Homo sapiens: one gene and its partners. The gene in region 3 interacts genetically with the main gene of each other region. Each region holds a gene or a part of one and is shown on either strand. Other genes may lie near its edges.

Region 1 (3,500 bases), on a different chromosome or scaffold from region 3:
TGTATTCTGCTAGGCTTGATCCTTCAAGAGTTTTCCTTTTCTAAAACATCTTGGTAAAATTATTTGATCTCTGTTCTCTTGGACAGTGGCTAGCCTTACACTACCAGGCCCTTGGGCTGCTGTTTCTTGGTGCATGTTCCTTCAGCCTGTCCCAGAAGAATCTCCGTGACCCAGGAAGCAGCATAGTATCCCTTGGAATGAACCCGCTCTCTCTCTCTCTGGGGCATGACACTGCTGTAGGAAGAGCAGCCCCTTTGTAACTAGCTGTTTGCATCCAAAATGGGCTCACTTAGCCTGTCTACAAAAATAGCTTAGGAATACCTCACTGCTGGTATCTCCTCTCTGGTACAGATTGTAAAAGAGAAAGAAAGGTTCAGAAAAGCTCCACCCAACTACGCTATGAAGAAGACTCAGCTACTGAAGGAAAAGGTAAGGAGTTGTACTCGAGCCTCTTTCCTCATCCTGTAAGGAGATGTGGAAATCAAACTTGTTCATCCTCTGCCAAGTTAGTGGTGGTAGGATTGGGAGAAAATTCTGGGCTCGATTATAAGCAACACAGTGTGTTCTTGGCACCTGGGCAACGTTCCTTGGCCATTTTCCATTCCCTAAATTCAAACTCATCTTCTGCGTGTGTGCCAGTCTTCTTACTTTCTAGTCACTTCAGTTTCCTTTGTAATAAAATAGACCCTGGGGTGGTATTTAACACTGAGTCTGAACAGACAGATGACACTGTCAAGGCCACCTGTGGCTGGTGATTTTCCATTCTTCACACTGGGTTGGGGTGGGCCTTGTTATGGTGGTTTAGCCACCCTGTGAGGCCTGGGGTTCTACTGCCACCAGGGACCCACAGCCAGGTAGCTGTATGGGAAGGTGTTCCCCACTGTACTGTGCACTACTATAATATAAATTATATCTTGTATTTGTAAAGTACTTCTACAGTATTCTTCCACATCTCCTGTCCTTTGCTCACCACATGAGATATCTTTGCCTGTGCTGGAAGTAAGGGGATACTTGATATGGAGTCAGTTGTATGTAGCCAAGAACGAACTCACACATCTCTCTATGTGTAGGCCATGGCTGAGGACCTGGGGGATCAGGACAAGGCCAAACAAATCCAAGATCAACTGAATGAGCTGGAGGAACGGGCAGAGGCCCTGGACCGCCAGCGGACCAAGAACATATCCGCTATCAGGTGTGTTATGGAGCCTATTTTTGGCCCGCAGACCTTGGCCAAAATTATCAGGCAAGCCTGTGGCCTGTACACTCTGTGCTGCACTGACCCCATAGATATCTGAGTTCAGGGCTCAGTGGTTCCCTCCCTCCCTTGTTTCACAGCCACTGACTCATCCCTCTTACCCCACAGTTACATCAACCAGCGGAACCGGGAGTGGAACATTGTAGAGTCTGAGAAGGCCCTTGTGGTAAGAAAACTTTATCTGAATCACTAAAACAAAGTTAATTAATAAACCATGACATCTTTTCTACATCTTGCCTAAGTTTATTTTTTAATTATTGAAATAACGTAGGCACTTAACGTATACACACTCTCTCTGTATGTCCACGTACATCGATATAATTTATTCATAATGAAAAGCAGCAGTCTTCTGCCCTGTCCTACCTCTTCCCACCCTTAGATTCTACTCCACAGGTATTTGTTTTTTCTCAATTTCTGTTTCTTGGTTGTTTCCCCCATATCTACTCTGGTATTCTTGAAGGGAAAAGGATAATATGCCGGGCGCGGTGTCTCACGCCTGTAATCCCAGCACTTTGGGAGGCCGAGGCGGGTGGATCACCTGGGGTCAGGAGTTTGAAACCAGCCTGGCCAGCATGACAAAACCCTGTCTCTCCTAAAAATACAAAAATGAGCCGGACATGGTGGTGCACGCCTGTAATCCCAGCTACTTGGGAGGCTGAGGCACGAGAATCACTTGAACCTGGGATGTGGAGATTGCAGTGAGCTGTCGTGCCACTGCACTTTAGCCTGGGCAAGAGAGCGAGAATCCATTTAAAAAATAAAAAAAATTAGCCGGGCATGGTGGCTCACGCCTGTAATCCCAGCACTTTGGGAGGCTGAGGTGGGTGGATCACCTGAGGTCAGGAGTTTGAGAGCAGCCTGGCCAACATGGCGAAACCCTGTCTCTACTAAAAATACAAAAATTAGCTGGGTTTGGTGGCTTGCACCTATAGTCCCAGCTGCTGGAGAGGCTGAGGCAGGAGAATCACTTGAACCTGAGAGGCAGCAGATGCAATGAGCTGAGATTGCGTCACTGCACTTCAGCCTAGGCGACAGGGCGAGACTCCATCTCAAAAAAAATTAAAAAAAAAAAAAAAGGAAAAGGATAATAGCTTTTTTTTTTTTCAGTCCCGTGCAAAGACTTATTTGCCTGTGAGCTTATGGTGAATGAGAGGAGGGGCTGGAGGTGCAGTTCTGTGGTGCATGCTTTCTGTTTCAGGCTGAAAGTCACAACATGAAAAACCAACAGATGGATCCCTTTACTCGGCGGCAGTGCAAGCCTACCATCGTTTCTAATGTGAGTGCTGAAAGAGGACATTTTAGTCAGGACCTAGATTCTAGGACACAAAATGAATTCCATTAGGAAATTAATAATGAAGTTAAAAATAATGTTTTCTTAGCTGGGATTTGCTTGTCTGAAGCTCTTGGGTCTGGATACTTCCTTTTTTATCTTGCTATAGGACATATCGGTAGTGAAAACGTGGCATGGATTTATAAAAACCTAGTGACTGATCCTCCTGTATCAGGGTGGGTTTACAGTGCAGCAGACATTAGTAATGTGTCCCTTAGCTAGGGCCTGGCTGGGCTGGGCTTGGCTTTCAAGCTTGTAATTGCCTTTTTTTTTTTTTTTTTTGCTGCTTTGAGGAAAACCCCACTAGCTGCTGATGGGTCGGCTGTGGTGCTTGTGATGTTAGTTTGGTAGGTGGGAAAGAATCTGGCAGTAGGACTCTGTGAGTGTCAAGCAATCTCTAAAACAACTTATTTTCTCTCTCAGTCCAGAGACCCAGCTGTTCAAGCTGCCATCTTGGCCCAGCTGAATGCAAAATACGGTTCTGGAGTGTTACCAGATGCTCCAAAGGAAATGAGCAAGGCAAGTGTGGTACCACCCTGTTGCCTGCTGAGTGAGGCTGCTGGCTGAGATACCGAACAAGTACCTTGTCTAGTTTGGGCTTGATTTTTCCACCTTGAGGAACAGGGAGTCCCTCTTGGAGTCCCTTCTCCATCCCAGTTATTTACAGATATAATCAACAGACAACCTTAATTCCAAACCTGACACCACTACTTGCCTAGGGCCTTGACTATGTCCTTCAGCAGCTGGCTTCCAGCCCTCAGCATCCCCTTTTCTGCTGTGTAAAATGAGGGTACTACTGTATACCCTGCCAGCTTCACAGGAGGAGAGATAACATACAAAGATCAGACATTGTAAAAGTGAAAGCTTGTTGAAAATGGCACATTTAAAAGCAGTTTTCTTGCTGGGCGCAGTGGC
Region 2 (3,500 bases), on a different chromosome or scaffold from region 3:
TGCAAAATATTTGTTATGAGTATTTTGTCCCACATTAACAAAAATAGTAGTCTGCCTTTTTTTTTTTGAGACGGAGTCTCACCCTGTTGCCCAGGCTGGAATGCAGTGGTGCGATCTCAGCTCACTACAACCTCCGCCTCCTGGGTTCAAGCGATTCTCCTGCCCCAGCCTCCCAAGTAGCTGGGATTACAGGCGCGCACCACTGCACCCAGCTAATTTTTGTATTTTTGGTAGAGACGGGGTTTCACTATGTTGGTCAGGCTGGTCTCGAACTCTTGACCTCGTGATCCACCCGCGTCGGCCTCCCAAAGTGCTGGGATTACAGGCATGAGTGACCGTGCCCAGCCTAGTAGTCTGCCATTTTGAAATGCTGTATTTTATGAACTTGGTATATCTTTTTTTTTTTTTTTTTTTTTTTTTGAGACGCAGTCTCGCTCTGTTGCCCAGGCTGGAGTGCAATGGTGGAATCTTGGCTCACTGCAACCCCTGCCTCGCAGGTTCAAGCGATTCTTCTGCCTCAGCCTTCTGAGTAGCTGGATTACAGGTGCCTGCCACCACAGCCAGCTAGTTTTTGTATTTTTAGTAGAGAAGAGGTTTCAACGTATTGGCCAGGCTGGTCTCGAATTCCTGACCTCAGGTGATCTGCCTGCCTCAGTCTCCCGAAGTGCTGGGATTACAGGCGTGAGCCATAGCACCCGGCCTGAACTTGGTATATACTTTTATAAAAGAAAAGACTTTCAAGTCATATATATTAACTGAGGCATTTCTTTAATGACCCTCTGACCAAACTAAAACTTCCTGCTGTGAAGTTTCAAAATGGCATCCCATTGAGTGACTCTATATATAGAAGAATCTAGCAATTCCTTTTCTGTTTGCTCACAATTTTAAAGATGAATCTTTGAAAGTTAAAAGGGGCTCAACACCTTCTGCCCCCCAGTGTATACAATAGTTTTTTTTTTTTTTTTTTTTGAGACAGGGTTTCACTTCAATGCCTAGGCTGGAGTGCAGCGGCACAATCCCTGCTCACTGCAGCCTTGATATTCTGGTCTCAGGTCAGTCTCTCACCTCAGCCCCTGAGTAGCTGGGACTACAGGTGCATGCTAACCACACGTGTCAAAAATTGTTTTTTTTCTTTTTTTTTTGAGAGAGAGTTTTGCTCTTCTCCCTCAGGCTGGAGTGCAGTGGTATGATCTTGGCTTGCTGCAACTTCTGCCTCCCGGGTTCAAGTGATTCTCCTGCCTCAGCTTCCCAAGTAGCTGGGATTACAGGTGCGCGCCATCATGCCTGGCTAATTTTATATATATATGTTTTTTTAAAACAGGGTTTTGCTCTTGTTGCCCAGGCTGGAGTGCAATAGTGTGATCTCTGCTCAGTGCAACCTCCGGCTCCTGGGTTCAAGTGATTCTCCTGCCTCAGCCTCCTGAATAGCTGGGATTACAGGCGCACGCCGCCATGCCCGGCTAATTTTTTGTATTTAGTAGAGACAGGGTTTCACCACGTTAGTCAGGCTGGTCTCGAACTCCTGACCTCAGGTGATCCACCTGCCTCGGCCTCCCAAAGTGCTGTGATTACAGGCGTGAGCCACTGCCCAGGCCTGTATTTTTAGTAGAGATGGGGTTTTACCATGTTGGCCATCTGGTCTTGAACTCCTGACCTCAAGTGATCTACCTGCCTCAGCTTCCCAAAGTTCTGGGATTACAGGTGTGAGCCACTGCGCCTGGCCTAATTTTTGTATTTTTTTGGTAGAGGTGAGGTTTCACTGTGTTTCCCAGGCTGGTCTGGAACTCCTGGGCTCAAGCGATCTGTCCACCAAGACCTCCCAGAGTGCCGTGATTACAGATGTGAGCCACCATACTGGCCTATGATACTTTTTTTTTTTAAGTGTACTTTTCACTCAAATTTGCAAGAATGTAGCAAACCAAATAAAGCATTGTTCACTGGAAAGCGTAGTTTGAGAAGGCAGTAATTAGAGGTGTAGACTTAATATGAAGCCATTTGTTGAGTTTTTTCGTTTGTTTGTTTGTTTTTTAAGATGGAGTCTTGCTCTGTTGCCCAGGCTTGAGAGCAGTGGTGTGATCTCGGCTCACTGCAACGTCCGCCTCCCAGGTTCAAGTGATTCTCCTCCCTCAGCCTCCCGAGTAGCTGGGATTACAGGCGCGTGCCACCACGGCTGGGTAATTTTTGTCTTTTTAGTAGAGATCTGGTTCACCATGTTGGTCAGGCTGGTCTCGAACTCCTGACCTTGTGATCCACTCATCTCAGCCTCCCAAAGTGCTGGGATTATAGGCGTAAGCCGTCGCACCCACAGTGATTTAAAGGAATGTAGTGTATATATTTGAGAAATGCATTTATATCTTTAATTCTGGAAAACACAGCATTAACTAACCTCCAGCATACCTGTTGCTTAACTGTGTTACAGTTGTTACAGGGAAATTCCTGAAATGTTGAATACGTTGCAACCATGTAGGATAATTTTTTGTTGATTCTGAGAACATAAACTTTCTTCCAGTATATTCTCACACCACCAGATGTGTGGGGTTTTCCCCTGCGCATCAAGCAAGCTATTCAGCAGTGGACACCACATGGGTATCCTCTAATTCAGTATTATTCTGACACGGTGTACCTGAAGATAGCATCAGATCCCACAGGTTGAAAGCTCAAGTCCCATAGACAGTCCCCCACTTCCAATGCTAATCTCAAGTCCCAGGTGGTTTTACCTGTGTTTCTGACCAACTGACTATAAATTGAGTTCCTAATACCCCCTTCTTTTGTTCAGTTAACTTGCTAGAGTGGCTTATGTAGAACTCTCGGAAATACTTAGGGTTTTTTTTTTTTGGAGCCGGAGTCTTGGCTCTGTCACCCAGGCTGGAGTGCAGTGGCACGATCTAGGCTTGCTGCAACCTCTATCGCTCTGGTTCAAGCGATTCTTCTGCCTCGGCCTCCCAAGTAGCTGGGATTATAGGCATGCGCCACCACACCTGGCTAATTTTTTATATTTTTGGTAGAGATGGGGTTTCATCATGTTGGTCAGGCTGGTCTCGAATTCTTGACTTCAAGCGATCGACCCACCTCAGCCTCCCAAAGTGCTGGGATTACAGACAGGCATGAGCCACTGTACCCGGCCAACACTTAGGTTCAAGAGTTTATTATAAAGGATATGGATGAGGAGGTGCGTAGGAGAAGTAAGGGCCGCGGAGCTTCCATGCCCTCCCCTGGCTACACTGTGCCTCAGCTATCTGGAAGCTCTCTGAACCCAGTCATTTATGGGCTTTTATGGAGGCTTCATTACAGAGGCACAGTTGGTTAAATCATTGACCTTTGGTGGTCACCTTAACCCTTAGCACCTTTTCCCTCCCTGGAGTTTGGAGGAGGTGGGGCTAAAAGTCCTAATCCTCTCATCTTGCCTTGATCTTTCAGGTGACCAGCACCCATGCAGAAACTACCTAGAAGTTGCCAAGCTATCAGTCAACTCAGCATACAAAAAGAAACTTACCATTCTA
Region 3 (3,500 bases):
GTGCCACATTTATTGCATTGACGAGGCAGGCACTTGCATGAACTGTCGCATTTGTACCCACCCTTCTGTGAGTTGGATGTTGCCATCTCTCTTTTCCATATGAAGAAACTGAGGCTTGAGGTAGGCCAGTGCCATGACAGACCTGGTTCTGGTCTTATTTCTGCTCTTGGTCTGTGATCTTGGGAAAGGCCTTTCTGAAATATGTCAAGATTAGGGGTTCAGATGAAGGTTCTTCTAAACTCCAAAGTTCTGTGACTCTTGGGAAGAGCCAACTAATGAAAAGCTTTAGAGTCGGGCACGGCTTGATACCAGGGCCTGATGCAGTTGCAGCAGCTGTGGAAGTGGGTGTCTTTGAGCTGGGGATGTCGTGGTTCCCTGATGCCAGAGCATGTGGGTGACCTACTCTGTGAGTATCTGTTCCCATTCTTGTCGGTCTCCCTCCCTTTCTCAGATCTTTGCCAGCATTGCTCCTTCCATCTATGGTCATGAAGACATCAAGAGAGGCCTGGCTCTGGCCCTGTTCGGAGGGGAGCCCAAAAACCCAGGTGAGCACCCACCTTTCCTCTGCAGGGGTGTTAGCAGCTTTCTCTTTGGGGAGCCAGCATTCAAAGAAGGACACAGTGTTTTTAAAGCCTGGGTGCTGGGGAGAAAGAATGCATTAAAAGATGGTCTGGCTGGGCGTGACTCATTCTTCAAGGGAGAGGGTGGCCCTGAGTTGGGCATTCTGGGTGTTGGGCTGTTGGTCAGGGAGCCAGTGTCTGCCTGCTTTTGTGATTTAAGCAAATGAGTCTTTGCTTCTCTTCTATGTAAAAAATACTTTGTCTTTTAAAAACCTGTTTTAAGTACAAAAATACTATTGACACATGAGTTTGTATTTATATTACACTTTTATAGAACACTAAAAGTCATGGGTGAGGCTGATTTCCCCATTGACCCCCACTTCTCTTCCTAGTCCCTCCCTTTGTGGCCATTTACAATTACACAGCAACCACAGGGTTTCATGACTACACGTGTTTATTTGTACAAGCGCAGCGTCCCCTGTGTGTGCCCAGTGCTGTGCCTGTGCGCAGTGCATCCCACCGAGCTCTCCCGCTCAGTGCCACACTGCAGCATCTTTTCTTGTTAGTGCATACAGAGCAATTGCCTTCTTTTAAATGACTATCATGCCACCAGATAACGCAGTTTATTTAGCTCTCCCTTTGGAGAACACTTAGATTGTTTCTGATATTTCACATTCGCCAAGGACATCTCGTGCAACCCTCCTCTGCACCCGTGTGTGTTTCCCTGGGAGTGCCCAGAGTGGGACTGCATGGCGTAGGGCATTGTATCCCTTTCTAGAGGGACTGTGCCTTACCATTCCTAACAAGTAGGTTGAGGAATTGGTGGGGGATGCAACTGTGCCCTCCTCCTCTCACTTCCCACTCTCCCCCTCCCCCGCTTCTACTCATCCCCTCCAGGTGGCAAGCACAAGGTACGTGGTGATATCAACGTGCTCTTGTGCGGAGACCCTGGCACAGCGAAGTCGCAGTTTCTCAAGTATATTGAGAAAGTGTCCAGCCGAGCCATCTTCACCACTGGCCAGGGGGCGTCGGCTGTGGGCCTCACGGCGTATGTCCAGCGGCACCCTGTCAGCAGGGAGTGGACCTTGGAGGCTGGGGCCCTGGTTCTGGCTGACCGAGGAGTGTGTCTCATTGATGAATTTGACAAGGTGGGTCCCTGGGTCACGGAGGCTGGTGGAACTCAGGGGGTGTGTGTGGGCTTGGGCCTTAGCGACGGGAATGGTGTTAATGGGGTCCATTGGGACCTCATCGGAGACTTAGTAGTAGGGGCGTGAACCATGCTAAGGGTGGGCCATTTTAATCTTGCAGATGAATGACCAGGACAGAACCAGCATCCATGAGGCCATGGAGCAACAGAGCATCTCCATCTCGAAGGCTGGCATCGTCACCTCCCTGCAGGCTCGCTGCACGGTCATTGCTGCCGCCAACCCCATAGGTGCAGCAGGCACCCTGACTGCTGGGGCTGGGGTGGGACACAGGGAGGTCCCGCCTGCTTGAATTGGGAGCCCACGGGGTCCCCAGGAGCCGATCTGAGGAAGTCATTGTGCAGCAGAGGGTTCCCCTCTTCTGCATATCCTGCCAGAGTGGGGAACAGTGAAAGTGGGACCTGGGACACCTGGGTTTCCTGTTGAGTCATGTTCCTGGAATCACCTTGGATGTTCTCAGAAGGCATGGGAGGAGAGCCCAGTGCCCCTCTGGCCAGGATGGAGTTGGCTGTTGGTCTCAGCAGCGAATGCGTAAAAGAACCCAGGCTCTGTCACCCACTGTGTTCTTGGTTTTTCCTCCTGGGGAAGCAGTTATGCTTTCTGTCTAAATTAGGCTATTTTGGGCCCTGGTTAGGGTAAGCTCTTTGCTGTCTCAGACAGCAGGTGCTAAGTACCCACCTATGTCTTCCTCTTCCACTGCCCTCATCCCCTTCTGCCATCAGAGCAGCCTGGGGTCCCTGAGATGGGAGGATAGGGGAATCCACCCTGATGGAGGTGCTCCCCTGTGTTTCAGGAGGGCGCTACGACCCCTCGCTGACTTTCTCTGAGAACGTGGACCTCACAGAGCCCATCATCTCACGCTTTGACATCCTGTGTGTGGTGAGGGACACCGTGGACCCAGTCCAGGTATAGCTCACATGTGCCCGGTTTCCATGAACTGTGGTTTGGGGACCTCAGGTGAGGCTTGGGGTCATACAGTGTGCCCAACACAGGGGACAGGTGCTGCAGGGGCCATAGGCTGTTTTCTAGTCCTGTTCCCTCGGTCTCTTCTCATGTCCAGAAGTCGCCCTGATTTCTCTTTCCTTCACAGCACCCCCGACCCCCACCCTACATAACCCACAATCCACCAAATCCTGTTGTCCCAACTCCTGAGCCTACCCACCTCCCTCACTTCTGCCTCTGACTTGAGGCACTACCATCATCTGAACTGGCCTCCTGGCACCCATGTAGACTGTCTTCCAGTTGAAGGCATAAATCAGATCAGCCCCGTCCTTAACAACTGCTTGAGGCTTTCTGCTGTCATCAGAATAGAATCCAGGGTCCTCCCCTCCGGCCCGCACCCGCCATCTCTGCAGCTACCTCCTCCTCGCTCCCTTCCCTCACCTGCACCTGCACCTGCCCTTCTCTCTCAAAAGGGCCGAGCCTTGGGGCTTGATTGTGCTCCTTGCTCCTGGCAGACGCTCTCCCACACTGTCACATGACTTGCATCTCATTGTCGTCATCTCAGCTCCCTGTCTTTCAGGGAGGGGCTTTGCCGGGCACCCTTAGCTAGAGGCATCTCCTTGGTCCCTTGATCCTATCACTCTATTTTTCTTCTGAGCATTACTTTCCATAATTAATTTTTAAGACTATTTGTCTCCTGTCCCCTTGTGGAGATGAGCCCTGTGGGGACTCTGTCCCATTGTCTGGTTTGCCACCCACACCCAGAACTGCCTGGCACATGGTCAGTGTAGTC
Region 4 (3,500 bases), on a different chromosome or scaffold from region 3:
CCCGCCGGCTTGCCTACTTCTGTACACGGAGACTGGCCCTGCAGCTGGATGGTGTGAGCAGTCACTCATCTCATGTTATATCTGCTCAGTCAACAAGCACGCTACCCACCACCCCTGCTCCTCAGCCCCCAACTAGCAGCACACCCTCGACTCCCTTTAGTGACCTGCTTATGTGCCCTCAGCACCGGCCCCTGGTTTTTGGCCTCAGCTGTATCCTACAGGTAGGTACTAGGCGGGCCCAAGGAAGCATTGAGAGATAGCCTGAGAAGAATCAGGTGCCCATCCCAGAGAATAGGGGTAATTCCAAATTGGATGTGGGAGTAGGTGCTGAGTACTTGCTTGGAGGTTGTTGTTTCTTGGTAATGGGGTGTTAGTCCCCTTTGGGGGTTTTCACCAGCCTCTCTCTCCCTTCCAAGGCTAAATAGTGGGCCCAAAGCCTTTTAGGAAAGTGAGTGAAGGGAGGGGATCGGGGTGGAGTGATGCCTGTCTTGGGGACCCAGTCAGAATAACTTTGGATCTGGAATCTACGGGTTGGGTCTTAGAATGGGATTCCAGAGGGGTAACCATGGTGAATGAGTTGGACTTAGCTGTTTCTATCTGGTAGACCATCCTCCTGTGCTGTCCTAGTGCCTTGGTTTGGCACTACTCACTGACTGATAGCAGAATTAAGACCGGCTCACCACTTGACCACTTGCCTATTGCCCCGTCCAACCTGCCCATGCCAGAGGGTAACAGTGCCTTCACTCAGCAGGTATGTCTGACCACTAGCCTGGTACTCTCAGATTGGGCTATGAGGCTAAATTACTCTTTCAGAAGTAGTGATTTGGAGTCTAGTACTATTCTTCTAGCCTGGGGCTCTGGCCTTTTATATGCCTTGGTACATCCTTGTAGCCTTCCTTTTTAACATTGCAGGTCCGTGCAAAGTTGCGGGAGATCGAGCAGCAGATCAAGGAGCGGGGACAGGCAGTTGAAGTTCGCTGGTCTTTCGATAAATGCCAGGAAGCTACTGCAGGTATGTGTCAGAGAACAGATAATAGGAAATATGTTTGAGGAAAGGATGGGGATAGTAAGGACATGTAGATCTAAGAGCCAGAATGCACCGGGCCTCTGGTTCAGTCCCCTTTACCACTTTTCCTCCTTAGGCTTCACCATTGGACGGGTACTTCATACTTTGGAAGTGCTGGACAGCCATAGTTTTGAACGCTCTGACTTCAGCAACTCTCTTGACTCCCTTTGTAACCGAATCTTTGGATTGGGACCTAGCAAGGATGGGCATGAGGTAAGCGAAAAGGGGAATAGAAGGAGCAAAAAACATTGCAAGAGCAATAATATGTCTGAGAGGGAAGTCATGGTGAGGCATTGAAAGCAGAGCATATCTGCAGAAATGATCTTACTGGGCCCAGGATGTTTTATGATAGAGCCCAGTCTTTAGGAAATTGGAACTCATTTCTTTGTCCCCACCCCTACCTTACTCCTCCTTCTCTTCCTTTGTTCTCCAGATCTCCTCAGATGATGATGCTGTGGTGTCATTGCTATGTGAATGGGCTGTCAGCTGCAAGCGTTCTGGTCGGCATCGTGCTATGGTGGTAGCCAAGCTCCTGGAGAAGAGACAGGCGGAGATTGAGGCTGAGGTTAGAGGGCAGAGATAAGAGAACAAGATTGGCCAATGGGAAGGAATTTACTGCGGTTGGAGACCGAGAGATGGAGGTGGTGGAGGGACCAGAGTTGAAGGTGTGAGAACAGAGTAAAGAAGCAAAAGAGAACCTAAAGGCAAAGTTACGGACGTGAGGCGAAAGTAGAGAAGAGTGGATTGTAGTAAGAGTTAGAGATAACATCAAGGCTTCAGTTGGGAGGTGGTAAAGAACATGGAGGTCAGCAGGGGAATGAAAGTGAAAAGCATGGGGTAGAGGTCAAGCAGGTGGTAGTTTAAGGCCTACACATTGAGGAGTGAAGAAGCAGGTAAAAGTCAGTTCTACAATTTGTTCTGTCATCTTGCAGCGTTGTGGAGAATCAGAAGCCGCAGATGAGAAGGGTTCCATCGCCTCTGGCTCCCTTTCTGCTCCCAGTGCTCCCATTTTCCAGGATGTCCTCCTGCAGTTTCTGGATACACAGGCTCCCATGCTGAGTACGGACCCCTACCACTCTCTAGTTACCTCTGCCTAGACTCAGTTACCCACCACTGTCATCAGAAAGCATAATTAACAGCCCTCTGGTCTATATTTCTCTCTTGGGCTCTATGCAGAATGACTTTTAGATGTAGTTCTAGTGATCCTCTTTAACTGGTCATCTTACAGTTAAACAGAGTAGAGAAATACAGAGAAGGATAAAAACAAGAGCTTGTGATTGAAGCATTTTCACTGCATAAATCGCAACAAAGATGTTACATTCCTTTCTGAGATGATGTGTGGGACAGCATGTGGGGTAACCAACCACACTTTGTCCCTCAACAATTTCTGGGATTTCTATTTGATCACTCTTATTATTGCCTTAGGTGTGTCCCTCTCTCTTTTGGCCCACCTTTTTGTGTTCTCCTAACTTATGTTTCCTCATTCCCTTCCTCCAGCGGACCCTCGAAGTGAGAGTGAGCGGGTGGAATTCTTTAACTTAGTACTGCTGTTCTGTGAACTGATTCGACATGATGTTTTCTCCCACAACATGTATACTTGCACTCTCATCTCCCGAGGGGACCTTGCCTTTGGAGCCCCTGGTCCCCGGCCTCCCTCTCCCTTTGATGATCCTGCCGATGACCCAGAGCACAAGGAGGCTGAAGGCAGCAGCAGCAGCAAGCTGGAAGTGAGTGGGCTTTTCCTTGCACTAGATCGTTTCTTCTGACATTTCCATCTTCATGGCTCCCAGGGGCCTCTAAGAGCCTCTTTTGCCTGGGGGAGGGGGGTAGTATTTTTCTTAGCACTTGGTGATTGACCAAGCACTCTCACATCAATTGTTTCATTGGTTCCTCCCATCAGCCTTGTGAGGTACTCTTATCCCCATTTTCAAACTGAAGAAAACAGAGGCCTATACTGGTTAAGTGATTGGATGAGGCTTGACTCCAGATCCTGTGCTTTCCCCAATCTGGTCTTCTCTCTCCACTTCCCCAATGAAGTTTTACAGATGGTGGGAGCCACTCCCTAGGGCTAAAGCAACTTCGCTTATGTTCTATGCCCTCAGGATCCAGGGCTCTCAGAATCTATGGACATTGACCCTAGTTCCAGTGTTCTCTTTGAGGACATGGAGAAGCCTGATTTCTCAGTAAGTTCAATCCTGAGCGTGGCAGAATCTGGATCCTTGGATCTTCCCATTATGCCTGCTTTTGGCATGTTTTTTTGCCCCCTCATCCACTTTCCTTCTTCTCATGTTCTGCTTTCTCACCTTTCTCTCAGTTGTTCTCCCCTACTATGCCCTGTGAGGGGAAGGGCAGTCCATCCCCTGAGAAGCCAGATGTCGAGAAGGAGGTGAAGCCCCCACCCAAGGAGAAGATTGAAGGGACCCTTGGGGTTCTT

What was found. A genetic interaction does not mean that the proteins touch.
Region 1: changes in MCM2 (region 3) and RTF1 together harm fitness less than expected from each alone (positive genetic interaction), as found in Homo sapiens cells (one large-scale study listed by BioGRID).
Region 2: changes in MCM2 (region 3) and CNOT1 together harm fitness more than expected from each alone (negative genetic interaction), as found in Homo sapiens cells (one large-scale study listed by BioGRID).
Region 4: changes in MCM2 (region 3) and MED12 together harm fitness less than expected from each alone (positive genetic interaction), as found in Homo sapiens cells (one large-scale study listed by BioGRID).

Annotation. Positions count from the first base shown.
Region 1 is NC_000015.10:41,476,095-41,479,594, forward strand, and holds part of RTF1 (RNA polymerase-associated protein RTF1 homolog), read left to right. Parts: intron 1-351; coding exon 352-429; intron 430-1,070; coding exon 1,071-1,192; intron 1,193-1,363; coding exon 1,364-1,421; intron 1,422-2,453; coding exon 2,454-2,531; intron 2,532-3,008; coding exon 3,009-3,104; intron 3,105-3,332; exon of another isoform or gene 3,333-3,397; intron 3,398-3,500. UniProt on the Homo sapiens protein: Component of the PAF1 complex (PAF1C) which has multiple functions during transcription by RNA polymerase II and is implicated in regulation of development and maintenance of embryonic stem cell pluripotency.
Region 2 is NC_000016.10:58,623,327-58,626,826, reverse strand, and holds part of CNOT1 (CCR4-NOT transcription complex subunit 1), read left to right. Parts: intron 1-3,500.
Region 3 is NC_000003.12:127,615,411-127,618,910, forward strand, and holds part of MCM2 (DNA replication licensing factor MCM2), read left to right. Parts: intron 1-451; coding exon 452-545; intron 546-1,457; coding exon 1,458-1,708; intron 1,709-1,868; coding exon 1,869-1,995; intron 1,996-2,558; coding exon 2,559-2,671; intron 2,672-3,500. UniProt on the Homo sapiens protein: Acts as a component of the MCM2-7 complex (MCM complex) which is the replicative helicase essential for 'once per cell cycle' DNA replication initiation and elongation in eukaryotic cells.
Region 4 is NC_000023.11:71,121,596-71,125,095, forward strand, and holds part of MED12 (mediator of RNA polymerase II transcription subunit 12), read left to right. Parts: coding exon 1-221; intron 222-604; coding exon 605-751; intron 752-912; coding exon 913-1,012; intron 1,013-1,142; coding exon 1,143-1,279; intron 1,280-1,499; coding exon 1,500-1,631; intron 1,632-1,998; coding exon 1,999-2,125; intron 2,126-2,563; coding exon 2,564-2,793; intron 2,794-3,168; coding exon 3,169-3,249; intron 3,250-3,380; coding exon 3,381-3,500. UniProt on the Homo sapiens protein: Component of the Mediator complex, a coactivator involved in the regulated transcription of nearly all RNA polymerase II-dependent genes.